7 linked regions of the Homo sapiens genome follow. The protein of the gene in region 1 purifies or fractionates together with the protein of each later gene. This does not show direct contact. Each region holds a gene or a part of one and is shown in the gene's direction. Other genes may lie near its edges.

Evidence for each region.
Region 2: the proteins of ARHGEF4 (region 1) and CLTA purify together in Homo sapiens (affinity purification with mass spectrometry, with the first as the bait; one large-scale study listed by BioGRID). This does not show direct contact.
Region 3: the proteins of ARHGEF4 (region 1) and CHCHD3 purify together in Homo sapiens (affinity purification with mass spectrometry, with the first as the bait; one large-scale study listed by BioGRID). This does not show direct contact.
Region 4: the proteins of ARHGEF4 (region 1) and ZC3H14 purify together in Homo sapiens (affinity purification with mass spectrometry, with the first as the bait; one large-scale study listed by BioGRID). This does not show direct contact.
Region 5: the proteins of ARHGEF4 (region 1) and KNOP1 purify together in Homo sapiens (affinity purification with mass spectrometry; one large-scale study listed by BioGRID and IntAct). This does not show direct contact.
Region 6: the proteins of ARHGEF4 (region 1) and SMC3 purify together in Homo sapiens (affinity purification with mass spectrometry, with the first as the bait; one large-scale study listed by BioGRID). This does not show direct contact.
Region 7: the proteins of ARHGEF4 (region 1) and SLAIN2 purify together in Homo sapiens (affinity purification with mass spectrometry; one large-scale study listed by BioGRID and IntAct). This does not show direct contact.

What each region holds. Positions count from the first base shown.
Region 1 is NC_000002.12:130,843,175-130,847,694, forward strand, and holds part of ARHGEF4 (rho guanine nucleotide exchange factor 4), read left to right. Parts: intron 1-4,520. UniProt on the Homo sapiens protein: Acts as a guanine nucleotide exchange factor (GEF) for RHOA, RAC1 and CDC42 GTPases. Binding of APC may activate RAC1 GEF activity. The APC-ARHGEF4 complex seems to be involved in cell migration as well as in E-cadherin-mediated cell-cell adhesion.
Region 2 is NC_000009.12:36,207,153-36,210,491, forward strand, and holds part of CLTA (clathrin light chain A), read left to right. Parts: exon of another isoform or gene 1-1,402; intron 1,403-2,114; coding exon of another isoform or gene 2,115-2,168; intron 2,169-3,339. UniProt on the Homo sapiens protein: Clathrin is the major protein of the polyhedral coat of coated pits and vesicles.
Region 3 is NC_000007.14:132,977,359-132,981,878, reverse strand, and holds part of CHCHD3 (MICOS complex subunit MIC19), read left to right. Parts: intron 1-4,520. UniProt on the Homo sapiens protein: Component of the MICOS complex, a large protein complex of the mitochondrial inner membrane that plays crucial roles in the maintenance of crista junctions, inner membrane architecture, and formation of contact sites to the outer membrane.
Region 4 is NC_000014.9:88,600,548-88,605,067, forward strand, and holds part of ZC3H14 (zinc finger CCCH domain-containing protein 14), read left to right. Parts: intron 1-1,376; coding exon 1,377-1,536; intron 1,537-2,280; coding exon 2,281-2,513; intron 2,514-4,520. UniProt on the Homo sapiens protein: RNA-binding protein involved in the biogenesis of circular RNAs (circRNAs), which are produced by back-splicing circularization of pre-mRNAs.
Region 5 is NC_000016.10:19,707,208-19,711,727, reverse strand, and holds part of KNOP1 (lysine-rich nucleolar protein 1), read left to right. Parts: intron 1-287; coding exon 288-356; intron 357-1,141; coding exon 1,142-1,219; intron 1,220-4,506; coding exon 4,507-4,520.
Region 6 is NC_000010.11:110,601,685-110,606,204, forward strand, and holds the end of SMC3 (structural maintenance of chromosomes protein 3), read left to right. Parts: coding exon 1-200; intron 201-281; coding exon 282-494; intron 495-789; coding exon 790-981; intron 982-1,140; coding exon 1,141-1,318; intron 1,319-1,499; coding exon 1,500-1,606; intron 1,607-2,546; coding exon 2,547-2,618; 3' UTR 2,619-4,364; downstream 4,365-4,520. UniProt on the Homo sapiens protein: Central component of cohesin, a complex required for chromosome cohesion during the cell cycle. The cohesin complex may form a large proteinaceous ring within which sister chromatids can be trapped.
Region 7 is NC_000004.12:48,382,757-48,387,276, forward strand, and holds part of SLAIN2 (SLAIN motif-containing protein 2), read left to right. Parts: coding exon 1-171; intron 172-890; coding exon 891-1,028; intron 1,029-4,520.

The sequences.
Region 1 (4,520 bases):
GGCAGCCAATACCCACTCATGGTGTATGACTGAGAAATTTTCCAGGACTCACTTGGCCCCTCCACATTTGTGGCGGAAGGAGGGTCTAAACTCCAGGTTCCTGGGGCCTCTGCCAGGGAGCCACCTACATCCTTGAACTCTTCTGGGTGAAGGTCGCAGCAGGAACCCAAGGCTGGAGACCCTGAGCTGAGGCGGGCTGCCCTCTTGAACCCTACAGAGGCTGGTCTCCTGCATGGTGGAGTGGGTGGGGCAGACCCGGCAGGGGAGCCAGCTGTCTGCCAGCAGGCCTTCCGTGCCTCCCCTGGGCTGTGCCTCCTGCTAACCTGGACTTGCCAGCCTTGGCTGCGTTGCTGCTCAGAGGCACCAGTGCTTCCTCGTGCTATAGGCCTCCTCTCCCCCACTGCTCTTCCAAGGGGGGGCACGGTTCCCACCTGTGCTTTTCCTCCAGACCCTGCCTCTGCCCCGTTGGGCTCTCCCCTGACCTCACCAGATGGTCTTTCTGTACAACACAAGTTCTCAAGCACCCCCTGCTTGTTGGGACATAATTGGCATCTCCAAAGGTTGTTCTCTCCCTCTGGGCTGTCGGCTCTGAGGGCAGGGCCAGGGTTTGGAGCACAGCGTATCCTCGGGAAATGCGCTGAGTCTGTGTGTGGCCAGGTCAGAGCCCCAGGGGGGCCCTGAATCCAGAGGGCCCCAGATTGATGTTTCTAGAGACATGAACTCCTGAAACCTTCTCTCCAAACTTGGGTGGAGCACAGCCCTGCTCTCCAGGTATGGGCTGGGCACAGCCTGCCCCACCTCTGTGTCCCTGTCCTCCCACTGGCTTCAGTCAGGTGTCCTCAGCCCTTCCTGAGACTCCAGCCACTGTTTATAACCTGGGAAGGTACCAGACCCTGCAGAGGGTTTGAATTCACTCTGGGTCTCCTGTAGGAGTCGCTGACCCCATACGTTTTGTTTGCTTCTCCCGCTGAGCGCAACTAGCTCCCTGGCTCAGGAGAAGTGCTGTGTCTTTCTGGATCCCATATGTGATTTCCTCATCTCTGCAATGGGCTGCCCCTCACCTTCTGCCAGTTATAAGGTGGTGAGGTTTAAACGATATTGCCCATTGGCCCATCCCTGGCTCCGGGACCCTCCACAGACGGGGATGGTGCTGCCTGTGAGGCCCTCCGGCCCTCACGTTGCCCTGTTGTAAAGGAGGCGGGGCGCCCTGCCTGGTGGGCACAGCCCTGTTGGCCAGATGCAAACCCCGGCAGTAAACCCCTAGAGACCCTGTCCCACCCTGGCTAGCTTGAAATGCCTTGGGTATCAGCCACGTTTGTACCACAGGGGTCGATTTGTCTCTCTTCCACAGCTTTTTTGCCTGTGAACTAAAGATTGCCCATGCTCGAGAAGAGGTCTCCTTGGAGCACTCCTTGGAAGCTGCCCCTCTTCCCAGGGTCCCTTTGTGATGGTGATGGCCCCTAGGTGGGTCCACTCTCCCATAGAGCTCTGTGCCCTGGGGCACCTTCATGTAACCCCTTCACTCTCAGGGGCATGTGAAAATTTAAATAAGAAAACCAAGGGAAAGCATGTGGAGAGAGCACCCAACAACTATTAGCTATCCCCCGCCAACCTCTATTTTTGTCTTCCCCAAACAAATATATATATATGTATATATATATATTTGAGACAGAATCTCATACTCTTGTCACCCAGGCTGGAGTGTAATGGCGCGATCTCATCTCATTGCAACCTCCACCTCCGGGTTCAAGTGATTCTCCTACCTCAGTCTCTAAAGTAGCTGGGATTACAGGCGTCCACCACCACACCCAGCTAATTTTTGTATTTTTAGTAGAGACTGAGTTTCACCGTGTTGGCCAGGCTGGTCTCGAACTCCTGACCTCATGATCCGCCCTCCTCAGCCTCCCAAAGTGCTGGGATTACAGGCGTGAGCCACCCGGCCCGCTATATTTTACTTATAACCAGTGGGGTTGAATGGAAACCCATCTCTGAAACTTGGCCAAGTGTGATGCTGCCTGATGTTGCTGGCCGAAGTTCCTGCTCTAGGTAGAAAGTGAGTTTTTGGCCGGGCACGGTGGCTCACACCTGTAATCCCAGCACTTTGGGAGGCCATTTGAGCCCAGGAGTTCCAGACCAGCCTGGGCAACATAGGGAGACCCCGTCTCTACAAAAATGTTTTTAAAAAAATTAACGTGGCATGGTGCACACACCTGTAGTCCCAGCTGCTTGGGAGGTTGAGGCAGGAGGATCATGGGAGCCCAGTACAGGCACCCGCCACCACACCCGGCTAATTTTTGTATTTTTAGTAGAGATGGGGTTTCACCATGTTGGCTAGGCTGGTCTCGATCTCTTGACCTTGTGATCTGCCCACCTCGGCCTCCCAAAGTGCTGGGATTACAGGCTTGAGCCACTGCACCCAGCCTAGAAAGTGTGTTTTTACAGAGGCATGCTGACTATGAGAACATCCTCCTCAGAGCATAGTGGGTGTGGCTGGTGGGAGAAGCTGGGTCAAGTGGTACAGTCTGCCTCTGTGTGAGGACTCAAGCTTGTGAGAAGACCTGGAAGCGACTCACAGGGTGGCACATCCACAGAGCAGCACTAGGAGGGAGGGAACTGCTGCCATACACATCAGGCCGGATGGGCCTCCAGGGAACCAGGCCCAGTGGCAGAAGCCAGACCTACGGTGTGATCCCAAATGCGAACCTACAGTGACAGAAAGCACACAAGTGGCTGCCTGGGGACAGGTGAGCGTGGGCGGAAGCCAGAGGGCAGATGAGGAAGGACAGAGGCAGTGGAGATTTGCTGCTGACTGTGCACCGGTCGAAACCCTCAGGTTGTGCTTCCAGTGTGTGAGTTTATTGTGCGTCAGTTACACCTCGATCAAGCCAGGCCCACCTCGGCCAGAAGGCAGCCATCTCTCTGCAGGCCTGGCTCAAGGTCTGTTGCCCAGGTCCTTCTCTGAGAGCTCAAACAAGCCCCTTGCTTCCTGTATCCACTCTCTGTGTGCCCAGTGGTTAGGCCTTCCTCGGCTGAGTGCTCAGCTCAAACTAAAACTGTCATCAGTGCTGTGTCCTTGCTGGCTGGTGCCGCCAGGGCCTAGGGCCTGGGAACTGTCAGCCTGGGGTGACTGGTCATCTGAGACCCCCACAACCCAAGAGTCACCTCTTCTCGGGTGCTGGGATCCCAGGAGCCACCCACACCGACTGCCAGGCAGGACCAGGCTGCTGGCCCTACGCCAGCCTCCCTGCCCCGCTTGGCTGTGTAGCATAAGCCAGTCCTCCCTCTCAGCACCCCCAGGCCAGCGCCCTCACTCCAGGACCCTCAGGAACCTGCCTGCGGGGGCTGTGACCCCTGCCGTGGGGAGGTGCACATGGGGAGAGCGATATGGGACGGCGAGAGAGAAGGGACTTAGGGCAGGATTCGGGCCCAGTGAGAGGGGCTTGAGGAAGCTGGACTTTGCTTGGATGGATGCCCTCAGGAGGTGCGGGGGCAGCTCTAGGGTCAGGGGTCTTTCTTTAGCAGAAGGAGGAAGGAAGCCAGGCCAGAGCTGGACAGCCAGGCAGCTGGGACACTCAGGCAGCTGGTGCAGGGCATTGATGGGGCTTCTGTGGTCAGGGCAATGCACGTTTGTCTGTGCTCAGACATGAGTCCGGAGAGTCTTGTTCTTCTGATTCATCGTGAGGTGGAAGTTGTGGGCCCCGGGGGTCGAGTTATGTGACACGGGTACGTTTAGCAGGAGAATCAGGGCCTGCCGGATGGCAGATACACAGAGTGTGTTTCCACTGTATCCACAGACATGTGCCAAGCCCTCCAAGCCCCAGATTTGATTCTCCAGAGGAGGCCTGAGCAGGTCTTTAGGGAAAGCCTGGGTGTAATTCTGATGTGCGCGGGCTAAGAGCCCTGTGTGGATTCCTGACGCACTGGGTCCAGTCAAGGCGACCCTGAGGGCCTTTCCCAGCCTTGCCCCTGCCGGACACCTGGCCCCAAAGCCGGCTGCACCCTCCAGAAGCAGGCTACCCTTCCCCTCCCAGGAATCTGGCCTTTCCGGACACTGCTCAGTGCCTGAGCTGAATCTGACAAACTGGGTGATATTAGTGACCAGGGGCGTCTCCTGCTTCCTCTTGAATCGCTTTTCACCTGGAGTATGAGTGCCTCAATGCAGAGGAGGCCGGGGGAAATTATTGAGCCCTCATGGGCACCCAGAGGCATCTGGAAGACAGGAGGTTTCAGTCACCACGTTGGACTTGGAGGCACCAAAAGATCATAACTGTGCACATTTGGTGTGACTTAATCATTCATCCCTCAGTCTTCATATCTGTAAAACGAGGATAATGGTTCCTCTCTGTAAGGTGGCTGTGACAGTCACATGTGCTGACGTTTGTGGAATGTTCCTTTTTACCTGCAAACCTTGAGTGCTCAATGCTGTGGCCCCAGCTGCTTTTCCACCCCAACGCTTGGCTCCGAGGGCCTGACCCCCTGAAGCAGGGGCACATTTGGTGTCCTGTCCTTCCCTGGGTCCA
Region 2 (3,339 bases), on another chromosome or scaffold:
GGTGGGTGTGCTGTACTCTATTGTCAGTCCCCAGACTGCATCTCCCTTCTTTTATCCCAAGTTGAGGCCTAAGTGTCACAGTACAAGAGCTGTGAATTATTCAGTGACAGCCATGGAAAAGAATTTCCTTTTCATAGCCAGCCAGCCAGAGCAGTGACTGACTCCTGCAGCTGGATGAGTTTGCTCATCAAGAACAACCCCAGAACATTTCCCCTATTACAGGTAGCACTTGTGCTTGTCAGCTCTTTCAAGGCTTGAGAAGGTTTGGGGAACCCACAGTTCTCAGAGATGGCAAACATTTTTTTCTGTGCCCACTTTGAGGCTGTTTATGGAATGAAGTTCTGCATTGTATTCGTGCCTCCAGAGCTTGTCCTAGGTCAGGTATTCCTCTTCCCTCCCCTCTCCTAAGCCTCCCTGAGCCCCTTCCTGCCTTGGCTGAGGATTGCTACTTTCAAGTGAAGGACAAATAAGGGGAGGGCCACCTGTGTGTGTGTCTGATTTTCTGTTTGTTCTGGGCCTGCAACCTTGACAGGGGATGTGCTTGTCACTGAGGAGCTCTTTGGTCTTGGGCTAGCTGCAAAGGAGCAAGAGCCTGACATTCAAACTTTTGTTGTCTTAGTGATGATTTGACAGGAGTCATGAAACCTCTACTCTTCTTGTGGAGGGAAACCCAAGTTGAAATCGATCAGGTTTAGTCCTTTGTGTAAACTAAAAGGGTTATGGGTTTATAAGCCAGCCTGCCTTGCCTTTTCCTCCCACTCATTCTGCCCACAAACAACTCTGTTTTCCTGCTGAGTCACTTTAAGTTATAATCAGCCTGCTCTTTTTGCTTTCTTTAAATTTCCACAAAACACCTCCTGTGTATAAAACAAAATGGGAAAGAAGGAAGGGCATGTGTGAGCTTAAAAATTAACTTAAAATTACTAGAATTTGCCTTCAAATAAGTATGTGAGGTTAGCTTAATGACCAGGCATGATTATCCTTGAAAAATGTCTTTCCCCTTGCCCACCCCAAATCGACTTGACAAAGGACAGGGTAAGACTCCATGAGGGAGGTTCCATGTCCAGCCACAGTGGAGAAGAGTGGGCTGGCAGAGCCCAGGGAGTCAGTCCAGGACAACAGAGTCAAAGCCAGCCTGGCCCCTGCTGTCAAAATTTATCCACCCAGTCTGCCCCCTCCTTCCTGTCTGAGAGCCCTGCCATGTTGAGAGTTAAGAAGGGATGAAGTTCTGGATTCTGGGCTGCACCTTATCAAAGCCAATTGAGTCTGGTGTAAAAATATTCAGAAACTGTACCCGCTTCTTGAGTAGAGAGAGAGCCATATTCAGGAACAACAGAAGCCAGGGCCAGGATCCTAGTCCAGTGTTCTTCCCACCAGACCACTCACCTCCAGCCGTTTTTTCCTGTAAGGTTGAGATTTTAAAATGACGATATGTGTTCCCAGGATTCTGGAAGTGTATCCCACCCAGACAGTGTGGGGAAGCAGTAGTTAGATAATCCAAGATAAAACTGGCTTTGGGTCCTAGCGCATCTGGTGTCTGGCAGCATTCCTGCCCAGTGCATTAACTGAAACAGGAAGGTGGCGTGGCTTTCTGGGCACATACAGCAGGGAAGAAGCATGACTATACAGTAGAAAGAGCCCTGGACTTAGGGCCAGGCTGCCTTGGTTGTGAGTCCTGAATGCTGCCACTGTGGTGTAGCTGAGCAAGTTGTTCATCTCTAAGCCTCAGTTACCTCATCTGTACAGTGGGGGTGAGAACAGTCAGGGTCATAGGTTGTTAACAGTTAAGGATTGAATCAACATAATGTATGTGAAAGGGCTTAGTCCATGATTGGGTGCTTAATAAATGCCCGTGTTGCTGGGGTGAGCCAAAGGGATGAAGTTGGCAGTGCTTGCTCTGTCGTGGAGCAGTCCCCACGTGGGAAGGCCAGCGGGAAACCAGGCCTGCTGAAGTCTCCAGCGCTGGAAGCCTCACGGGGGTTAGGAAGGAGCCTTGGGAGCAGCTCCTCAGAGCACAGTTGTACCTCAATTGTGGATTTTAGATGTTTCTGCTTCTCAATGTTCTCTCTTTTTTCCTGCCTGCTTGCCTGCCTTTTGGACCTCTTGCTGTCTAGGGTGGCAGATGAAGCTTTCTACAAACAACCCTTCGCTGACGTGATTGGTTATGTGTATGTTGCAAAACTAATTCCTTTTTCTACATCTGATTCTTTCTACTTTTGTTTAGAGTTAATGCTCCTTTTATGTCACAAGTTGCTTTGCTTTTTAAATTATTTCAAATTGGCACTTTGGGGGCTGCCTAAGAATTGATAAGCGGGGTATGATCTGTTGATGAATCTTCCAGATTTGTGACTCCCTGCATCCTCTGATGGCCATTTTTCATATTTGGGGTTTTGGAGGGAAGAAAGCTAACTCGCTTTCAAAATGTGTCATTTGCGATCTTATCTGGGAACGGTTTGAGGCTCGGGGGAACTCTGCTCTCTTGCTCTTGGCTGCCATCACTGCTGCCATGCCCTGTTGCCTGCCTGCCTCAGGTGGGAAGGAGGTTTCCCCACCTGGGAGCAGGTGGCAGTCCCAGGAGGTTAGGAGCCAGTGAGCAGCAGCACCTTGCATTGCCAAAATCAGAGCTGTGGGGCAGCATTTTCCATACTTGGTTCATTCAAACAATGTGGGGTCGTTTGCCTCTCCCTCAGGCAGAAGAGTCCAGAGCAGAGGGGGTTGTCTCCAGTGGGTGTCTATAATTGTTCCTCTGTGGTCTTGCATGTCAGAAATTGCTATTTAGTGGTCAGCTTCTGATGTCCTGTCTCCTAGCACAGGGAAGCCCCCAGCTTTGAGATCAGGATAGTCAAAGTGTCTTGATACGGGCCACTTGGGCTTCTCCCCCTGACCCCCCCAAAAGAAACCTGCATCTTCTCTGGAGAAGGTGTTTTTCTTATTCTTTTTTTTTTCTTTTTTTCTTTTTTCTTTTTTTTAAGGATTTCTTTTATCAAAGCAGTATTGCTGAAGAGTTGGAAACAGTTCTCATTGTCTCCTCCTTAAAAATTAGGGCTGGCTTTACATGAGAAGTAAGGGTGGAATGGAAGAGGAGAGGAACCTGTGGAAGGTGGGCGATGAGCTCAGGTCTGTAGAGCCTCTCAGGGCCTATGACCTTGAGATGTTCATCCCCTTAGAAGATAGAACTGGGTTTCCTGGGCCCCCAGATGCATTTGCAGTGAGACTTGTGAAATGCTGGACTTACAGGTGGTGTTTGATTTGATTTCTGCACATTCTCTCTGGAGTAGAAATGGAGACTGGAAAGGTCGAGTCTGGTTTTGCTGGGCAGCTGGGTGGCCAGCAAAGCCA
Region 3 (4,520 bases), on another chromosome or scaffold:
TATAACGGTCACGGTTCAACTTTAGATAAGTCATTTAGTCAAATCACTTTATCTCTAGCAATCTCCGTTTCCCATTTATTCTTACCCATTATCTGAAGTTCTTATCAACTTTCTCTCCATAGTGTAATGGCCTTATGTATTACATTTATAAAGTAATTTTCTAAGCTAGAATTGTATAGAATTACTTATGTGTCAACCTACATGAAGATAAATCTGAGTATTTGTGAATGGCCAAATGAGCAGTATCCAAATTCAGAAAAACATTTAGGGCCATTAAAAGCCAAACCACTTTGGGAAAGGGGTGGTAATAATTTAGACTCTGGCAAACTCTGACTTAGTGTAGTATACACAAATTTTAAAAGAGCCTATTTTAAAATAACCGTGAATAATGTAAGATTTAAAAACTGTCCTTACATGACCACAAAGGTGAGTAGTATAATGGAAACTAATTCCTATAGGAAAGTTTACTCTTTAAGATGTTTAAGAAGTATGACTTTGGAAGTCAGATCACCATCTTTCACACCTCTGTTGTACTTCTCAGTTTTTCTCATGTTAAAAATGGAGATAGTAGCTGGTGTGGTGACTTGTGCTTGTAATCTCAGCACTTTGGGAGGCTGAGGTGGACAGATCACTTGAGCCCAGTTCAAGACCACTTGAGCCCAGTTCAAGACCATGTGGACAACATGCTGAAACCTCGTCTCCACAAAAAAAAAAACAACCCAAAAATCAGCCAGGCTTGGTGGCATGCAACTGTGGTCCCAACTGCTTGGGAGGCTAAGGCAAGAGGATTGCTTGAGCCTGGGAGGCAGAGGTTGCAGTGAGCCGAGATCATGCCACTGCACTCCAGCCTGGGCAAGAGAGCAAGACCATGTTTCAAAAAAACAAAAAACAAAAAAACTAGAGCTAGTAATGCCTCCCTTATGGAGGTGAATGAAGTTCAATATGTTAATGCCTTGCTAAAGTTATCTTTAAAATTCTCTTTCTACTTTCTTAAAAACTTGAGGTTCTTTAGAGTAAAGTCAAACTGGCTAGTTTTTACCCTGGGACTAAAATATAGAGAACTAGATTTTATACCTGCTGTCCATGAAAGTTGAATGTTTTATAAGTAGTTAATTTGTTTTCCCATTTAAAAGGACATGTAATAATATTTATTATAGGAGATTTGGCTGGCTTTTAGGAATTCATTTTGCTGGTGTACCTTAAGTCCCTCGCCTGATTGACAATATACTGAGGAAAGAGCTAAGTTGCTAGGGCTTGAGGTCTAAGGGCAGCACTGACTGGTATTTGTTTCATTAAGCTTAGGCAAGCTATCCAATTACTTAATGCAAACAAGAAAAGTTTACACTAAACTCCTACTTCTTTGCTTGAAACTCTAGAGAATTTAAATGAGGAGAGATATGTATTTAAAAGAAAGAAATTTAAATGAAACTTAAATCAGGGACTTAATGTAGAATATATTAGAGCAGGAGATCTAAAATATTAAGTGGGAAATGCCAATAAATAAAAAAGGAATGTATTCTCTAAGATACTTGGCATGTTTAGTTTTGTTTTGAGATAATTCTTAAATCTTTGGAAACCCAAGTTAATAATGAGAGACTTATTTTATCTCCTGCCTTTACATATAAAGTCCTGCCTTCCCTTGGTCAGTGAGAGCCTGGGTCTTCTCTCCTTAGTGAAGTGTTCCCAAAACAACATGGCTTCTGATTTTATAGCTCCACTATCTGGGCAGTAGTTTTCAGAGAGGCCCAGATGGCAGGGCTGTCTTATTTGGTTCAAAAAGAGAAAAATTGGTTGACAGCTCATCTACCTTTTGCAGATGGCTGTTGAATAGTATAGCTCCATGCGGTATAAAACCAAGGGGCCAGAGAGGAAGCTTTGAAAGTAATTGGGGGTTTCTGAAAACATAAGCAGTTTTTCTTTGCAAAGTGGTTTTGGCTCAGTAAAGAATTTACAGGAACCATTGAAAGAGGAAACTTAGAAGAAAATAATTGCCATGCAATATTTTGGAGGGGAGGGTTGGGGAAATGGAGAATGGTACAATTTTGAAGTTTCAAATCTATTGCTTTTAAATGGGAAATGGTACAACTTAGAAGCTTCTCATCTTTGGGCACTGGTCAAAACTGAACCTCAGTCAGTATACCATTGAAACTCTGTCCTCCAAGAGAATCTGAAAGCAAGTAAAATTCTTTGCAGAGGTGATTTCATGCCTCAGAGACCCTTCTAAGTGTCACAGGAATCTAACTGAAGGAAATCCTTTCTTGGTGCTTCTGGACCCAACTGATGTTTCCTCTGCCTAAGACACTTTCTCCTTCCCCATGTTGCTCAGTTAATGTCCTGTAGAGCTCAAGTTAAATATCAGTCCCACCCATGCAGTGTCATAGATACCTACCTAACTTTTTAAAAATAATGCATCTGTTATTTGTAATCATGGCTCATGAAAGTAGGGACTGTGTCTCTTGCTCACTACTTCATTCTCAGTAACCAGAGTAGTCCCTTTCACCTAGTAATTATATACTGAATAAATTTATGAATTCCAGTGTGTAGTTTTTGTTGAGTACTGTAGTGAGAAATCTCAGGATTACAGTAGAAGTATATGTGCCCATCGAGTAGAAATTATAACAGTATCAAGCTGGGAGATAATATAATGCCCCTCTGTTTTATTTATCCCCTGCCACCACCTTTTTCAAGATTTTTTATGGAATGAGGAATAATATGTTTAAGGTATAGACTTTTTAGAATGTTTATATGCAAAGGACCATAAGATTATATAGTAGTTCAACCTTCAAATTTTAAAACTGAGGAAACTGAGGCTTATTAGATTGTACAGCTAAGTTGTTGATAGGAAATGAGAATTTGTTCAGAGTCCTACTGCCAAACTCCCTGATGACAAAAAATTTGGTTTCTTAAACAGTCACCATACAGACCTTAAAAAAAGTTTTTTTAAAATTTATAAACATTCCTTTAAAAACATTTGAGAATTTGTGCAGTTCTATTTGTAAGGATGAATGAAAGTATAAGAATTTATTAAGAAAGGAAAATAATATTCTTTTTAGTCAGTTTGCACCACTGCCAATCCTCTTTCAATCCAGGTGTCAAATATAGTTAGGTGTTGATGTTGGAGGGGCTCTGGACTGTTGTGGCACCTCCTGTTGTAGGCTATTTAATGTAGCCTGGGATTATATCACAGATGTGCCACATCTAACATGGTGGCTAAGCCCTTGGAGGATACAGTTTGTCTCGTTAGTTGTTTCTTATATACCATCGCCTTGTGTTCTTTTGCAGTTTGTTTTCCTTGTTTTGTTTGTGGTTAGAAATATGCCATTTATTTATTTATTCATTCATTCATTCACACATGCATACATCAACAACTTTTTCTTGCGTGTTTGATATGTGGCAGGCACTTTTATAAGTATGGGGGATATAGCAGTGAACAAAAATAGGGCAAATCGTTGTCCTTATGGAGCTATGGACAAGAGGGAAAGGAAGCAGCTTGTGAAAGGGTCTAGCTGCTGGAGTTAGTAGAGTCAATTTGTGATTTTAGAAGTCCTTAGAGATCATAAAAATAAAGCAGAATTTATTGGTGAAAAATTGGAAAAGATGATGGAGATGGCATTGTAGTTAGTGAATTTGGAGATTGTCTTCTTCATTTCGTAAAATCACTGCTTTCTCTGTATTCCTACCCGCATAGTGGGTACTATTATTATTACTGCTACTTACCTAACATTTATTGAGTGTATATTATGTTATGGGCATTGTGCTGAGTGCCTTGTTTATATAGAACGCTGTAAGGTAGGTATTACACTATTTCATTTTACCCATGAGAATAACAGGACTCACCGGAGATTAAATAAAGTACTTATTCAGATAGGAAGTTTAGAGCCTTGATTTGGACCCAGAGTTTGCATATCTGTACCAGTCATGGCAAGCTAAATATGTTTATTTTTATTATCACATTGAAGGCTTTTGTGCTCATGTTTTGCTTCTTTTTCATTAACTTGCCAAAATCCTTATGATCCTGTATTTCTTAAAGTTGAACCATGTAGAACTCCATATGTAATTAAAATCTAAGCCATACATAAGTAAACTAAAATGGAAAAAAAAAGTAGTAATTTTTAAACAGTACTTTAAAATTAGATACACCAAATGTGGTAGATGTGATAATTCAGTTGAACAGAATTCATTTTATGTTCATGAACTAATAATAGAATTTGAATAAACATTTTATATATGTTTGTAAAGTGCCTAGCACAGTGCTTAGTAGTTGATCCATAAATGATAGTAATTTTATTATTTTATTTTAGTTTCCACCTCACTGGTAAAAATAGGTAATGCTTTTTTACTTAGGGGTAAGATGTCCATACAAATGCGTTAAATACAGTATTGTAATCTGATATGATAACCTCAGCAGTTATTTGCACAATATTCTCATGGGGAGCACTTCATTTTTGATGTTACTTTCATTTACCTCCAGGATTTATTTGAGTACAAGTGTATTTTGGTAATTAAGGGCTGTAGTCTTA
Region 4 (4,520 bases), on another chromosome or scaffold:
TCTCCCACCTCAGCCTCCCAAGTAGCTGGGACTGCGGGCATGTGCTCCCACGCCTGGCTAATTTTATTTATTTATTTATTTTCTGGTTGATGGGAGGTCTCACTATGTTGCCTAGGCCGGTCTCAAACTCCTGGGCTTATGGAATCCTTGTGCCTTGGCCTCCCAGAATGTTGGGATTACAGACATGAACCGCCACACCAGGCCACTTGATTTCTTACTAATTATAGACCAGAATCGAGAGTCACTGAGACATAGAAGAACCTTTATTATATGTGTCAGCCTTCCTTGGTATGTACTGCTGAGCCCACCACACACACCCTTCCAGCCATTCCACATTCTAACCTTTCTCAGATGCCTTCGGCCTTGTGAAAGCCCCTTTCCTTCTACGTGCGTTTTCCTCTGCCTGAAGTGCTGTGTTCGTTTCTCCGAGTCTCTCTCCTTGTTTATTCCTGCTTGTTCCTTTACTGCTGACTTCAGATGTTCCTCCTTGCTAAGCTTTTCGTTGGTTCTTGGCTGGAGTGGGCTGTTCTGTATTCTCAGCACCTTGTTCACATCCCTTTTGGGTCATGCTATTCTGAAATTGTATATGTGTCTGTTTTTCTTTTTTTCTTTGTGTATCTAGCTCAGTTCTCTTAGTTGTTCAGTAAATACTCAGTGAATGAACATAAATGAATACCCTGTAAATTTTGGTCTCTAAGCTTTAAAAGAAGTGTATTAACTTCAGTCCGTTGATGGCGTATTGATAGGTCAGCCATTCTGGGTTGTAGGTCTTGGCATATTTTATAAAATAGTAGATGATGTGAGCTTATGGTTATTTGCATTAAAGGCCAGTGTTTTTCTTGATACATATGTTTAAGTGTCCATTCACCTTTCAGTTACCTTTTAAAGTAGTCCTCGGTTTATAACCAACTGGAAATTATACCACTTGAATTCTTTTTATCAGGACATGATTCTAAGTGGTACTGTGCGAAGTGAACAAACCAGATTTTGGAAAAGTGGTTCAGCAGTCTGTGTATTCTAATTATAGGGAGCATTAGGACTCAAATTCTCCAGGTTTTTAGAAAAGATTTTTGTACTTTAAGGGTATATTGTTAATATCTGTTGAGATGCCTCACCTGAGAACCTTTCTCTGCTGTGGTTAGGGAGTGTTAATCAGAATCACTTGTGCCGTGCCCTACGCGAGAAGGACTCCTTGAGTTCTTTGAAAACATGTTTGGAATAGAATTATAGCCCTGTTTTCCTGAGTGGAACCAGTTGTGATTTTCCTTTGAAATAATTTGAATATATAAAAGATTGACATTCTTCTCACATATATAATGTTGGGAATGTAAGGTATATTCAAAAGTAAACATTTGTGGCCAATTTTTTTGGCTCAGATTACTATGACATGGAATCCATGGTCCATGCAGACACAAGATCATTTATTCTGAAGAAGCCAAAGCTGTCTGAGGAAGTAGTAGTGGCACCAAACCAAGAGTCGGGGATGAAGACTGCAGATTCCCTTCGGGTACTTTCAGGACACCTTATGCAGACACGGTAGATGGTTTCTTTTTCTTGTGTAGTTAATTTGTGTGATTAGATAGTAAAGGTTAACCATTCGTTTGCAGCTTCCCTCCTCCCCGCCCTAACCGCTAGCGTAGAGTGCTTTCATTGATTCAGTAGCTAGCCCATGAATAGTTAGCCAAATTCAGTTTTCAAGAATTCCAGTTCATCTTTCTTGTTCAGAAATCCATTAACCTACAAATTACAACTCAGTGTATGATTTAACTCTATTAAAGATTCTTTTCTTTATGCAAATTCAGGAAATGCAAGTTTAAAAGCCAGCTGACCATAATCAGGTCAGCTCTAAAGAGAGTTGGCAGATCAGGTTTGGGTGATTTTTCCCTTAGAAAATTGACTGTTTCTATAAAAGAAGAAACATACAGATAATTAGCATAAATGCTGCTGGCCCTTGTGTTCTGAGCATTGATGCTAATTTTTTGGTTTGTTTCCATGTTGACCCTATGAAGATCGAATGGGTGATGGGGTCAGGCTTGAGGGGAGATTGTCCTTAGTAAGTACAGGCTGGAGGGTCACTGGTGATGCCACTGTGACTGTTCATGGCCATCGTGTGTTAGCAGAGAACCCACCAGTGCTGCACCTGGTAGCCCTACCTAGTCTTTTTTTATTGAACCAAACGCAAAGCCAAGGGAGTGATAGTTCTGCTGAAGAGCACTTTAGGGGGCTCAGCGTTTTGTGTTTGTTTCCCTAATTCTATGGTATTTTTTATCTGTCTGGCAGAGATCTTGTACAACCAGATAAACCTGCAAGTCCCAAGTTTATAGTGACGCTGGATGGTGTCCCCAGCCCCCCAGGATACATGTCAGATCAAGAGGAGGACATGTGCTTTGAAGGAATGAAACCCGTAAACCAAACTGCAGCCTCAAACAAGGGACTCAGAGGTCTCCTCCACCCACAGCAGTTGCACTTGCTGAGCAGGCAGCTTGAGGACCCAAATGGTAGCTTTTCTAACGGTGTGTTGAGAGCTCAGATTTTCAGGGTGCTGTCATTGTGAAGGGAATCTTTGACTTGTTTCTCTACCTTGAATGAATATTGGTTAAAGGCCTTGCTTTTATTTATATTCAGTAATGGCCTTTTTTCTTCTTTCAGACAAACCCACCAAGTACATTTCAGACTCTTTTTCCTGTGTCTTTTTCATAGGTGGGCTGTTACTCCAGTTTGAAAACGGAGTTCAGCCATGGAACCTGAGAGACCTCTTCCGCTTATGCTGGCTAAAGGATGAACCACCATTCTTGTTGCCTTCTTTACCTTTGTATTTTCTTCAGAAACTGTACTGCCACTTTGCCCTTTTATCAGCAATAGTCTCTTGCAATTAACTTGAGAGAAAAATTTAGATTTGATGCTATTTCTACCTCAGTGAAATTTCTTTGAAAGGAGTTTCTCACCTAATCTATCAAGATCTTGGAACTGTTTAAATTAATGTTGAAGAGTAATATTTAGCAGAACTCAGATGAACTCATTTCAGATAGCACCATAGTTTTTGGCAGGTGACAGTTTCTTATCACCGTTTCTTTCACTGGGTATCAGTGGTAGCTGCAACGCCACTGATCATTTCCATTCATGATAGAGAATGGTAATTATGTTCCTTATATCTTCTAAAATATTTAGAAGCACCTCTTCATTGGCAGGAGGGATAATTACTCAATCTTAAAAGCGTACAGATTCAAAGGAAAAACAGTAATGGATTTTGAAACATTTCCTTGAGTAATCCTCTTCTTGGAAGAGATATGAAAATGTATTGAATACCTTTCTCGATCATTAAAAATAGAATAGACTTCAGAGGGAAATCATATGTTAGTGGAGCAATAACACTTAGCTTTATTTTAATTGGTTGCGTTTCCTACTGTGAATCAATGACGTAGTGTCGTGGTTTTGATTAGTGGAGGGAGTTGAAAATCTGACCCTATCAACAGGAAGAAAAACTTAAAAAATAGTAAAAGCTGCAGTAGGCAGTCCCGATTTATTGACTCTGTATGTTTTGTCTAAAGAGAAGACTCCAGTGTTTTCACTACTCTTGATTTTCAATTTGGTACCTTAATTTTTTGGTCTATTAGGATCTGGTTTCATTTAAATGTAGGTGTCCATATGAGGCTTTATGGGGTATACATGTAGCAGCAGTGACACCATAAATAATATGTTAGTAAAAATTCTTGCCAGTGCTGTGGCCATTGTGCTGACAGCCATGATGAGTGGTGAGCCTCCTTTCCCATTGCTTTGACTGGGGACTCAGTGTTTCCCTGCTGCTCAAGGATGAAGCTTTGTAAGATTAGCATAGGGGTGTGGCTGGAGAGACTCCTGCAGAACAGTTCTCAGGAGTCTCTAGTCTCTGCACCACTTCCCCTGTGAGCAGGGAGTTTGAAACTGCAATTGCTTCTGGTTGGTTTTATGTTGGGTTGTTTCAAGGATGCTACCAACAACAACATCTGTTTTAACCTGCTGTCTTTTCACTCACTGTCATATGGCAGCACAGATTTTATAGCTTGCTTTCTTTGTTTTTTTTTTTTTTGAGATAGAGTCTCTCTGTCCCCCAGGCTGGAGTGCAATGGAGCCATCTCAGCTCACTGCAACTTCTGCCTTCCAGGTTGAAAGCCATTCTTCTGCCTCAGTCTCCCAAGTAGCTGGGATTACAGGCATGCACCATCACACCTGGCTAATTTTGTAGTTTAAGTAGAGACGGGGTTTTACCATGTTGGTCAGGCTAATCTCCAACTCCTGACCTCAAGTGATCCACCAACCTCGGCCTCCCAAAGTTCTGGGATTACAGGTGTGAGCCACCGTGCCTGGCCTATAGCTTTCAATAAAAGGTGAATTTGCCTCTTAAAATTTGAACAGAAAGTTTTAATAGTTTACAAAGTCGGTGTCAGCCAGTGAAGACTAGGGGCATGACCTTCGTATGACTTAATGTTTTTAAAAGAAAGATAAAGTTTCTTTGTAAGGTATTATTGTAATAATCACATTTC
Region 5 (4,520 bases), on another chromosome or scaffold:
CACCAGTCCCTGAGCCGTGGGGTAACCTTGTAGTCACTTTACCTGTCTGAGTCTCAGTTTCTTCATCCGTCAAATAGTTTAGTACTACTGTTTTGCGGGAGAATTGTGGAAGAGAAGGGATGGGAAGGGCTTTGCTGACTGAGATGTTTCTAGGTGGCAGGGCTGGGGGTGATGCCGTGGTCTGAGGTCTTTTCTGGACTTTGTCATGGTCTCACCCTGGCTGGGTGCAGAGGCAGAGGCCATTCATTGTAAACTTGAACCTTAGCCAGCTCTGCCCTCTCCTGCAGGAAACAGACACGGACTTAGAGGTGGTGTTGGAAAAAAAAGGCAACATGGATGAGGCGCACATAGACCAGGTACAGCCCAGACCCTCCTCAGGCCCCTCCCGCTGCCTCCTGCCACCCTTGGAGTCTCACTTGCTGCCTGCCAGGCTGGCTAGGTGATCCTGGTCTCAGGGGCACCAGGGACTCCAGAGGCCACTGGGCCAGCTGCCAACGCACACCTCCCGGGCCGGGAATGCGTGCTTTCCCCATCCTCATGCTGGGGGCCCTTCCGGCTGCCGTGGCCATGGCCGAGAGGCCCGACTGGCCATTCCCTGTTACTTGCTGCAGGATGTGGGGGACATGTCCCTAAGACCCTGCAGCTGGGCAGGTGACACATGCTGCCACCCCCTGGGCTAATTCAGGAGCATTTAGAGGAGAAGTTTTGTTGTGAATCAGCTTCCGCTTCTGTCGTTCCCATATCCCGTGGCAAATGCATCCCTGTGGGAAGTGGACTTTCTGGCCTTGGGGATTTTTTTTTTTTTTTTTTTTTTTTGAGACGGAGTCTCACTCTGTCCCCCAGGCTGGAGTGCCGTGGCGTGATCTTGGCTCACTGCAAGCTCTTAAGCCTCAGTTTCTAGGAAAATTCATTCTTAAGAGGCTAAAGAGGATAAATGAGCCTGCCCAGTGTAGGCCAAGGGGCGCAGCCCTTGAGATGCTAAGAGAATACTTATGATAGCAGCTTCCCATTGTTTGTAGCAGAGTCAAGCTGTGTTAGTTCCTCCCACGTTCCGTTCCCCCAGCCCCGTCTCTGTCCTGGGTTTTAAGCTTGAAAGAAGATCTCTGTCTGACGGCCCTCTTCTGTCATCCTTCTTGCTCAGGTGAGGCGAAAGGCCTTGCAAGAAGAGATCGATCGCGAGTCAGGCAAAACGGAAGCTTCTGAAACCAGGAAGTGGACGGTAAGTTTGGGGCTAGGGCTCTGCGAGGAGGTGGCACGCTCGGCCTCCCGACGCTTCCCCTCGCCTCCAGCATGAGGAGTGGAGCAGGAGAACCAAGTATGTCCAGGCCCCAGAGGCAGCCCTAGCCTGCAGCAGGCTCCCTCCACAGCAGAATTTGTCCTGAGCTAATTTCCTTCCTTCTGAAAAGGGCGCTTGCCTCCCTCCTAGAGAGCTGGCCCGGTGAGATAAGCTGCCTGAACCTTTGTCTCAGCCCTGGACTGGTGGGGTGTCCTAAGGATTAATCACTGAGGACACATTCCAGCGAGCTCTTGCCAGTGGTGGACGATGCCTTTGGAGGGCTGCTAGGAACAGGGACAAGAGGCAGAGGGGAGGGAGTGGTCGCGGCCCCTCTCAGGCCTGGTTTTCAGATCCAGTCTGACTGGGAAATGTCCAAGCCGGGCCTGAGAAGATCTCTCAGGAGGGAGGAGGGTGCGAGGATCATGAGGCTGGAGAGTGTGAGGTTGTCAGGCTGGGGCCCTGGCGGAGTTCAGTGGGGGCTCTGTGCTGGGTGCTGGACATGGAGCAGATGAAGCCCATGTGATCCCCATCATCGCGCTCACGGTCTAGAGGCCAGAGCGGGGTGAGCATGGCAGGGAAATGGTTAGCAAACAAGGAAAGGAAGATCAGTTGAGGTGGCAGTAGCGGTCAGGAGAAAGAAACAGAACAGTGAGCTGGAGAGGGGCTGCAACAGATGGGCGAGGGCTGGGAGGTGGCAGCGCTTGTCCAGAGATGTTCAGGGTGCAGAGGCCCCAGCCCTCAGGAGACAGGGGGAAGAGCGTTTCAGTGAGGCCAGTGGCCGGTGCAGACCCCTAAGGTAGGAAAGGGCCTGGAGTGATCTGTAGGGAAGGCCAGTGAGGCGGCACTGCGGCTGGAATGAGGGACGAGAGGGCTACAGGCCACAGGCCTCGGCCTCAGCGGCCATGATAGAGAGCTGGCCTGGGATCTGGCTAAGTGGGATTGGCTGGAGGGCATTGACTCGGCAAGCGGGAAGACCTGGTAGAAGGCTCAGCCTGCAGGCCGCAGCCTGAGGATGGTGGCAGAGGATAGAGAGAGAAAACAGCTTTGTGATTTACTTTGGAGGCACAGCTGGCAGGACTTGTTCATAGATTGGATTTTGGGGAGACGAGAAGAAAGGTCTGGGTGACCAGCGATGCTGGCCTTCAGGCTCCGTCAGAGCATTCAGAAAAGAACAGTCGATTCGGATCAAAAGATCTGATTTCACTACTGGCTCTGCCACTGTCTAGTGGTGGGACTCTGGCCAGGTACCTTCCCCTGAGCCTGTAAAATGGGACTCGTACCCTGGCCTGGTGGGGTATGGAGTGGGGCTTTGTTATGGGTCCTGCCTTGGGGTGCCCTTTCTCTCCATGCCACCCTGCTGAGCTGAGCCGAGCTGATGGGACATCCAGCTTGAATAGGGAGGGCAAGAAAAAAGGCAGTGTGATTCGGAGCCGATGTCCCGGGGGGCTGTCCCTGGAAGGACCTGACGGCAGGAGAGTGATCCTGGGGCACAGGGGCTGGGACATGCCATGCCACTGAGACGTGGTGAAGTGGTCCTCTGGGTGGGCAGCAGCCGTTGGAAGTGCTGGTTCACGCAGGACCAGCTAGCAGTCTCCTGCTCTCCCCAAAACCCATGTGGGGTGGTCATAGATGGCCTCTCACTCTAGAAACTGCAGGGCAGGGGAGCTGTCATTATTCCTGCATCTGGGCCACCATGAAGCTGGGAGAATGTGTCACCGGTTCACTCAGGGCAGCTGTAGTGACAACTGGTTCTTATTTTCCCAAAGCCAACCCAGAAATAAGTGCTGGGCTGGCCTCTGGCTTGTGGGCGGGAAGTTCCCAGGCAGCGTCGATGTCAGCAGTCTGGTTGGGGTAGGGGGAGAGGAGTGGCCAGTCACTGAGGGCTTGAGGTGTGCCATGCATCGTGCACTGGGCTTTTGGTGTCAAATCTGACGTATGTCTCACTGAAGCCCTGTGAGGGGGATGTTATCACCCCACCTTAGAGATGAGGGCACCAAGGCTTAGAGAGGTTAGGGGACTTGAGCAGGGTCACCCAGGGGAGGCTTCCTCCCGGGGCTGCCTGACTTCCGAGTCACAGTCTTCTTGGGAGGTGAGTTTCTTTCCTCTCCCACCGACCTGGGAGAAGGGGGTCTGGAGGGCTCTCCTGCATTTTCTTGCACATGGGTGGTAGCGCACTCTGGCTGGAATGGGGACCCCCGAGTTCTTGGGCTTGGCTCAGTCTGACTTGGCTGTGTGACCTTTTACCCCTGTGGGCCCGCACCCGTTCCCGCCATAAAACAGTGCTTCTGAGAAGCACACTTCAGATTCCCACTCGCCCTCTCCCACCCTCCAATTCACCCAAACGTTAGGCTGCTGGGTGAGTGCGCCCGGCTGCTGGGCTGTGGGGTGCCCTGTGTTGCAGGGGAGGTGCGCCCTGTGGGGAGGTGGGGGAGGTGTGCTGTCTTGTGAGATGCATGGTGGGGTGAGGTGCGCTGTGTAGGGAGGTGGGGGGAGGTGCGCTGTATAGGGAGTGGGGGAAGTGCTATGTAGGGAGGTGGGGGAGTGTGCTGTGTAGGGAGGTGGGGGGAGTGCGATGTGTAGGGTGGTGGGGGGAGTGCACTGTGTAGCGTGGTTAGGGGAGGTGCGCTTTGTAGGATGGTAGGGGGAGAGTGTGCTGTGTAGCGTGGTGGGAGGAGGTGCGCCATGTGCGCCGTGTAGGGAGGTGGGGGGAGTGCTCTGTGTAGGGTCGTGGGGGGAGTGTGCTCTGTAGAGTGGTGGGGGAGTGTGCTGTGTAGGGAGGTGGGGGAGGGGAGGTGCACTGTGTAGGGAGGTGGGGGGAAATGCTTAGTGTAGGGTGGTGGGGGGAGTGCGCTGTTGTGAAGTGAGGCACACTGTGCCGTGTGCCATGAGTTAGGAAAGGAGGAGGAAGGCAGAAAGGCAGCTCTGTGCAGAGGTGGGCAGTGGTGTTGGCTGGACCTGGGCTGGAATTCTGGGGGTCACTAGTTAGGTTTCTGTCTCCAGCTAAGCTGCAGACCTCTATTTTCTCCTCTGTGCAATGGGAATAACAACAGTGTTTCTCATAGGGCTGTCTTTAGGATTAACGGAATAATCCGTTGTTGAGCTTATTAGCACTGTGCCTGGTACACAGCAGCCATCTAATCTGCTGGGCCCTCCCTGATGAGGGTGGGGGTCAAGGGAAGGAAAGGGCTTTGAACTCAAGGAAAATAGCCACCTTTTTCCTCTCCTCACAGGGAACCCAGTTTGG
Region 6 (4,520 bases), on another chromosome or scaffold:
AGAAGAGTATGGAGCGCTGGAAAAATATGGAAAAAGAACATATGGATGCTATAAATCATGATACTAAAGAACTGGAAAAGATGACAAATCGGCAAGGCATGCTATTGAAGAAGAAAGAAGAGTGTATGAAGAAAATTCGAGAACTTGGATCACTTCCCCAGGAAGCATTTGAAAAGTACCAGACACTGAGCCTCAAACAGGTTGGTTTTAAATTTGAAGTCTTGTTACAAATTGCTCAGTATATAAATTTATTTATATGAATACATATTTTCTCTTTATAGTTGTTTCGAAAACTTGAGCAGTGCAACACAGAATTAAAGAAGTACAGCCATGTTAACAAAAAGGCTTTGGATCAGTTTGTAAATTTCTCCGAGCAGAAAGAAAAGTTAATAAAGCGTCAAGAAGAGTTAGATAGGGGTTACAAATCAATCATGGAACTGATGAATGTACTTGAACTTCGGAAATATGAAGCTATTCAGTTAACTTTCAAACAGGTATGTTTCGCTTTGTAGTTAAAACATACACACAGAGGACAAAAGCTTCCAGCTCTTTTCAGTTTGTAAAGATTTTAAAGCTGTTTTCCTCATTACCAGGTGAATCTAATACATGTGAACAAACCTAGCATATAGGTTTACAGTAACTTGAATGTTTTACACAGCCCTTAGAAGGATCTAGTCTGTTATCCTTGTTCTTAAGATTAAAAAATAATTGGTTGCTTTTAAATATTTTACTTAAGTGTTATATATAATTCTAAGCAAAATTTATATTTCAATCTGCTTTTGTTTTAAGGTATCTAAGAACTTCAGTGAAGTATTCCAGAAGTTAGTACCTGGTGGCAAAGCTACTTTGGTGATGAAGAAAGGAGATGTGGAGGGCAGTCAGTCTCAAGATGAAGGAGAAGGGAGTGGTGAGAGTGAGAGGGGTTCTGGCTCACAAAGCAGTGTCCCATCAGTTGACCAGTTTACTGGAGTTGGAATTAGGGTAAAATACCTTTATATTCCATTTTCCTCAGAGCATTACCATAATAGAATTTATAGTATCTTTTGCAAATCTGATTGGTGCATTATATGCAAGTTACTTTTGAAAGATGGTGGTGATTCTGCCCTTTAGGATATTAACTCATAATATGTTTATTTTTAGGTGTCATTTACAGGAAAACAAGGTGAAATGAGAGAAATGCAACAGCTTTCAGGTGGACAGAAATCCTTGGTAGCCCTTGCTCTGATTTTTGCCATTCAGAAATGTGACCCGGCTCCATTTTACTTGTTTGATGAAATTGACCAGGCTCTGGATGCTCAGCACAGAAAGGCTGTGTCAGGTACAGTTTCAGTACAGTTTTGGTTTTGTATTTAACAATAAGCTGGTAATATTTGCTGATGTATATATGAAAAAATCAAACTCAGGCAGTTTTGAATTTTAGTAAGAGTAAAGATAGTTGCTTTTTAAATTTTCAGATCTGCTGAAAAGAAATTTGTTAAAGCACAATTTTCTTTTTACAGATATGATTATGGAACTTGCTGTACATGCTCAGTTTATTACAACTACTTTTAGGCCTGAACTGCTTGAGTCAGCTGACAAATTCTATGGTGTAAAGTTCAGAAATAAGGTAATTTTATTTTACATTGAGTTTAAGTTTGTATTTATTCAATTATATTTGTTGAATTCTGATTTTATGTTACTTAAATAGTGAAAGAAAACTTAGAAAGTCTTTGCTTATCTGATGTCTTTGTAAAGAAAGAACTTTTCCTTCAAATAACTATGAAGTTTAGCAGTATTTTATGGCGTTGCATTGGTTTTATTTTCATTGGCATTAATAAACAATATCTTTCTGTCCAGTCTATTCAATGCTTCTGTAATGCACAGTCTTTAACAATTATATATGTTCATTTGTATAGACTGCATAGCTCTTCCTGGGTGTCTTCCCAACCTTAAAATTCTTGATGAAATAGCAAAGTAATAGAAAGTGAACAAAAAGGTAGTTTAGATGTTTAGGCATGATATTTATTTCTTCAGAGCATTAAAATACATATTTTTTAAATCTATGCATTGAACAAACACCACTGTAAATAAAGGTTTTATAAGTCAGTGCTTCAGAATTATTTTCCTTCATATGTAAAATATAGGTGATAGGCCGGGCGCAATGGCTCATGCCTGTAATCCCAGCACTTTGGGAGGCCAAGGCAGGTAGATAACCAGGTCAGGAGTTTGAGACCAACGTGGCCAGTATGGTGAAACCCCCGTCTCTACTAAAAATACAAAAATTAGCTGGGCATGCTGGCGTGCACCTGTCGTCCCAGCTACTTGGGAGTCTGAGGCAGAATAATTGCTTGAACCTGGGAGGCGGAGGTAGCAGTGAGCCAAGATGGTGCCACTGCACTCCAGCCTGGGCAACAGAGCAAGACTCCATCTCAAAAAAAAAAAAAAAAAAAAAAACTAAAAATTAAAAAATGTAGTTAAATGTAGTTGATAGGCTGTATATATTTACCCTATACAATGTAAACACTGATGTAATTAACAGATTTTTGTTTTTAACATTTATTCTTCAGGTTAGTCATATTGATGTGATCACAGCAGAGATGGCCAAAGACTTTGTAGAAGATGATACCACACATGGTTAATTGGAAAATACTACCTACTGGTTTGGGAGATGTATATAGTAATATGATTCTCATACCCAGGAACTGTAAATTTAAACCTAAATATTTGGCCAATAGTTTTCAGACTTAAAGCATCATAGTCCTTTTATATTTGTCTTTGTATTTTATAAGATACTCTGTAATGTCATGTTTGTACTGATAGTTTAAGAATTTAATTTCCTGTACAACTTTTTGTAAAATGTTCTGCTCCTATTTTAAATGTTTTGAAACATGCTAAATATTCTTTCCTAATTATTTTATCACTTATACTACCTTTTTTATAGCTTCAATTAAATAATCGGTTTTATGACTAATATAGTGTTTTATGTGGCTTTTCATTTGTCATAGTCTCTTCCAGTGAGAACACTAATCAGATTGGATGTAAGGCCTCATTTTAACTTAATCACCTCTTTAAAAGACCTGTCTCCAAATACAGTTAAATTTGAGGTATTGAGGGTTAGGACTTCAACATGTGAGTTTGGGAAGGGAAGCACAAAATCAGCCCCTACCATGGTATATTTATCATTGATACATTACTATCAACTAAGCTCAAGATTTTATTCAGATTTGACTAGTTTTTCCACTAAGGCCCTTTTTCTTTTCTAGGATCCCACAGAGGATACATTACATTTACTTACATCTCCTCTAGTCTGTGACAATTTCTCTGTCATTGTTTATCATATCTTGACAATTTTGAATAATATTCACATATTTTGTAGAATGTCCCTCAAATTAGGTTTGTCTAATATTTTTCTCATGGTTAGATTGGAGCTAATACCACAGAAGCGAAGTATTCTCATTACCTCATATAATAGTACATATTATTAACATGTTTTATCACTGATGTTTACCTTGATCACCTACCCAACATTGTACTTGCCAGGTTTCTTTGTTGTGAAGTTACATTTTTTTCCCTTTCCATACTACTCTTTTCTTTGAAAGTAGGTCTTTAAGCACTGGGGGTCTCCTGTGACCCTGGAAAACTACCTCAATAGTCCTCGTAGCTTTTTGTAGATTCTTTGAGATTTTCTACATAGACAGTCATGTCATTTGCAAGAAAGAGGCAGTTTTATTTCTTCCTTTTCAAATATTTACCTTTAATTTCTTTTTCTTGATTTCCCCTGGCCTGAGTTTATACTGGTTATCTGCAGGAGAATTTGTTAGGAGCTACTCTTCCATCATTGGAAACCAGAAATACCTAAAGAGATACTTTTAAAATAAAGAAATAGTAATGGGACTTTAAATTGAATTTAAAAATGTGAGTTTACTTTGGGTTTTCATTTTGACTGGCTGAATCTTTAAATGTTCGGTGTATTATTTATACTTTGTAGCTTTGCTATAACATAACTGATCTATAATAGAGAATTTGGTATATGTTCTATCTATGACTACATTCAAAGGGTTACGTAACTATAATATCTTTCTAATATTTCTACCATTTTTCTTACACATTTACCCAAGAATTTTTCTCAAACAACTACCTAAGAATATTCATCATGAATGCTTGGTGTATAGTTTACGATTTGTAGAGTTGCTCTGATATGACCAACCCCTTATAATACAGAATTTGGTGTAAGGTAAGTTCCAGGATTCAATTCAAGGGATGTTACAAACATAACATCATTCTAGAACTTCTTAATATTGTTCTTAAGCATTTCCCCAAGGATATTAGTATAATGAAATGCCAGTAAATTTATAACAATAAAGCATCTAAATAATGAAACAAAATTTTTGTAAAAGCCTATATTCTTTGCGATATCTTAGTCATGAATTAATTCTAATGAGACTGAATAGAAAAATGTGACAATCCTGAGCATGCTTAACCCAGAAACTTAGAGGAAGGACAGACATTTACCCAAGGAGTTAGCCAGTGATTCATAAGAA
Region 7 (4,520 bases), on another chromosome or scaffold:
GACCGTCACCTAAGCAGTCACCCAGAAATTCACCTCGTTCACGATCTCCTGCTCGGGGAATAGAATATAGTAGAGTGTCCCCACAGCCTATGATTAGCCGCTTACAGCAACCTCGCCTTTCACTTCAAGGCCATCCCACAGATTTACAGACAAGCAATGTTAAAAATGAAGGTAAAATAGCAGATTTTACTAATAATTAGACAGTTTCTGCTAGCCTGTGTAACATAGCAAGACCCCGTCTCTAGGAAAAAAATTTTCAAAATTAGCTGGGCATGGTGGTGCACATCTATAGTCCTAGTGACTTGAGAGGCTGAGGCTGGAGGATTGGTTGAGCCCAGGAGTTCAAAGCTACAGTGAGCTGTGATCACACCATTACACTCCAGTCTGGGCAACAGAGCAGGATCCTGTTTTCAAAAAAAAAAAAAAAAAAAAAGTTTCTAGATTAAAAAAAGAGAAAAAGTGTCCTTTATATTTCACTATGAAAGTAATACAATTTTTGCTAAGTTTTTGTATTTCAGATAAGTAAATCAAGAGTGTAGTCAGGTTTACTATTTTATTAATAGTGAATCATTACAAAAATAAAAGAGAAAGTGAATTTCATTTTACTTGGTTATGTTGTTTTTGCTTTATTGTTTTATGAAGTTACCTGTATTTAGATTTTGCTTTAAATATAAAATTTGTGGTTATCTTTAAGTGTTCTCTTATTCTACCCACTTAACAGATCCTAGATCGAGTTGTTTGTTTTTTTTAATAAGACAAGTCCTTTGTATTTTCTCATCTAAAATAAACAGAATGTTTGATAAACAATTTGATTTTTGAATGCTAGTTAATATTTTAATTTTCTCCATCTGAAAGAATATGATTTTTTTAAAATTAAAATTCTGTTGCAGAAAAACTAAGACGCAGTCTTCCAAACCTGTCCCGAACATCTAATACACAAGTTGACTCAGTGAAAAGCAGCAGAAGTGACTCAAATTTTCAAGTGCCAAACGGAGGAATACCTCGTATGCAACCTCAGGCTTCAGCCAGTAAGTATCCTTCTTATGCTTTCATGTATCAGTTATTTAAAGAGAAGTGAAAATTTTAGATATTTGTTTTATGCTGAAAAACCGTTTTTTATGCTGAAAAACCGTTTTAAACCATAGCTATAGTAAAATTTAGTGTTTATTAGTTGCTGGATGATAATCAAAGTTATATTACAATTTAAAATTTTCTATGTAGGATACTTGATTCTGCCAGTACATCTGTCTATACAAAACTCTGGTCTCTCCAGAATTTTAAAATAAGCAAAATGTAACTATTAAAAAAGTAGGTGTAGCTTTTGCTTATAGATACTAGAATTAGAAATAAAAACCAGTAGAGCATCCAAAAATATATGTCCCTTAGTACGTAAATTTTCTTTAATAACCTCCACTTTAAAAATACCTAAAAGTTTGATTATTACATAATTTTAGAATCATACTCAAAATAATCCATTGTTCAAACCTGCAATATATTAAATCTGTTATCAAAGTTGAATTGTTGAAGTTCTTTTCTTTCCAAAACAAAAGTATACCAGGAGAACTCTTGGATGATCTCATTTTATTTCTGCATCTGTTGAGATAAGATTTCTGGTTTTGATTTGATTTTCTGTGTTTGTTAAGGCTATTTTAATGAAAAAATACAATATTGAATCAATATGTATGCCAAATTAATTCATAGTCCTAATCCTACTTATAGATTAAAATTTGAGATAAATTGCCAGAAACCATCACTTTTTAAGAATTGATCAGGACTTGTCTCTTTAAATTATCTTTCAGAAAACAAATTCTTAGAGTTAAAGCTAAACTCTTAAACAGAGAAGGTGAATTTTAGAAGTATAGTAGAAAGAACACATGTAGATTATAATTTTTAATAAGTTTTGGTCATTGGGTGGTTACTAACCCATGAATGTGACAGTATTTGTATTCAACTATTATTTGTAATAGATACTTGAGTTTTTATTTTGTGGCAAGTAGTATGTTAAATCAATACAGGCATTTCTACTATAGCACAAAATATGCACTCCTTAAAAACCTCACATTCTGCAGTATTACACAATAAAAATGATAGGATGATGAGGAGTGGAGGGAATAGTCCTGGAACAGACCACTGAAAACCCAAGCAACTTTCTTAGAAAGCATTAATAAAAACAATAATGATACTAGCACAGTTAAATTCATGTTAAATCTTTATTAAATACTCCAGGAGATATAGAACTTCATTTTTAAAGAAAGATTTGAAGGTAATGTGATGGAAAGGAAAGGTTGAGACTGTTGAATTAAGGAAACATATGCAGCATAGACGAAGATCAGAGAGAATCATACAGTAAGATCATCTAGGACAAAATAGCCAAACTGAGCCAAGAAGTAGTGATGTTGGAGTAAATGGGCATTGTGTATATTAATGTACAAGTTGATTTTAAAGGAATTTCAAAAAATTACTTTTTAGCTAGGATAGATTTGAGCGTGTAGTCAAAACGGTTTTAAATAAATGATTACAGTTATTTTTATGATCTTATGAACGCTCAGTATTCATCCCATGTGTTTCACAGCTCACATCAGTCCCGTATATGAGCTCTGAGACACAAAGGGTGCATATTCACTGGGGTCCTTGTAGGGACACAAGGGATGCTTATTCACTCAGATCCTTGTAGGTACACAATGGATGCATATTGTCTCAGATCCTTGTGGCATATTACTATCAGTGGTTGAAGTGGTAGCTGTGTTATATTCTTTCATTTTCTCAAGGCTATGAAGAAGTGATACAAACGAGTTTGTTGACTGTTCACTTATAACTTGTTTATTAAGCAGTTAAAAATTTGAAGATATTTAACCCTTTTTTCATTTTCATCTTTTTTTTTCTTTTTTTTTTGATTGAGTCAGGGTTTCACTCTGTCACCAGGCTGGAGTGCAGTGGCACAATCATGGCTCACTGCGGCCTCACCTTCCTGGGCTCAAGTGATCCTCCTGCGTAGCTGGGACCACAGGCGTGCACCACCATGCCCAGCTAATTTAATTTCTTCACACTTTTCCTTGGCCCTGTTGTGTTTAGCTGACTTCATATACTTCATGTTAAGCTGTTGTTACTTAGTGGCTCAAAAATCAACAGGCTAGCAGGAGTTTGAGACCAGCCTGAGCAACACAAGACCTCGTCTCTAAAAAAATGTTTTTTTTTTTTTAATTACCCAGGCATGATGGTCACATGCCTATAGTCCCAGCTACTTAAGAGGCTGAGGTGGGAGGATTGCTTGAGCCCAGGAGTTTGAAGCTGCTGTGAGCCATGATCATGCTGCTGCACTCCAGTCTATTGAAAGAAAAAAAAAAAAAAAAAAAGCTACGAAAAAACTATATTTGAATCAAAATGACTTCTGTGATATATTGACAAATTTTCCTTATTTACAAGGTGCATATGATATTACTTATATAACAAATTTATATTATACTGTATTTAGATGCATAATCTTATTTAATCCTTAGAACAATTCTATGAAGGAGGTACGATTATTACCACATTTTACAGATTAGAAATTGAAGCTTTGAATGGCCAAATAACCTATCTCTGATTATACAGCTTATAAGCGGCAAGTTAGAATTTAAACCCATGTTGATTCATCTTGAGCACTGGATCTCAATAGGTGAGAGTCCAAATTCACCTAGTGAGAGTTGTCACATCTATGGTTTAGACCATGATATAAAACTTATCCAGAAATATAATTTCCATTTTTCCTAAGATTTAAAATTCTAACGTTTAAAGCACTGTAGAAAATTGGTACCCAGAGATTTGTAAACCACATTTATTCAGCTAGATATATGCTAAAACCTGTTTTTATAGCAAATTACATTTTAAACTTAGTACTCCAAGTCTTATTGTGAACTCTGTAACTGAGAGTGCCATTATAATACTCACTGTAGTACTAATAAATAGTATAGAAAACAGGAATTCACAAAACACTTGAAAGGAAGGATAGAATTTGAGCTTTATCTTTGAAATCGTGAGTGATACAGATTAATTTGACACTTGAGAATATCCTGTTTCTGGCTTCTTTTTTCCCCTGACACATTTGGCTGATGCAAAAAAAACCACCCACAATGTTAATGTAACAGGAAAGAAAAATAGTAAATCATTAAGAAGGTTAAATAATAAAACTTATGTATATTATAAGCCATGCTTTTACAGCATGTGAACAGATGATCCAAAACAATGTTTGTACTTGGCTTTCAAAGATGCTTTCATATTTAGTTTGAACTGTTACATTCTGGATTTCTCAAAAGTTTACATGATACATGTCCAAACAGCATCCCAGATACTTTCTAAAACTAGCTATATCTATATCCTCTACCTCGTCCCCTCATACATGCTCTGTATTTGAACTATTCTAGCATGTCAAAGCTTTATGGAAATGAAAAATAATTCTTCACAAAAACAGAAGAAAAAACAAAAGGTTGGGAACCTAGGATAAAAATGTTAATAGAAATAATGCATTGTCTGTGTCTTAAACT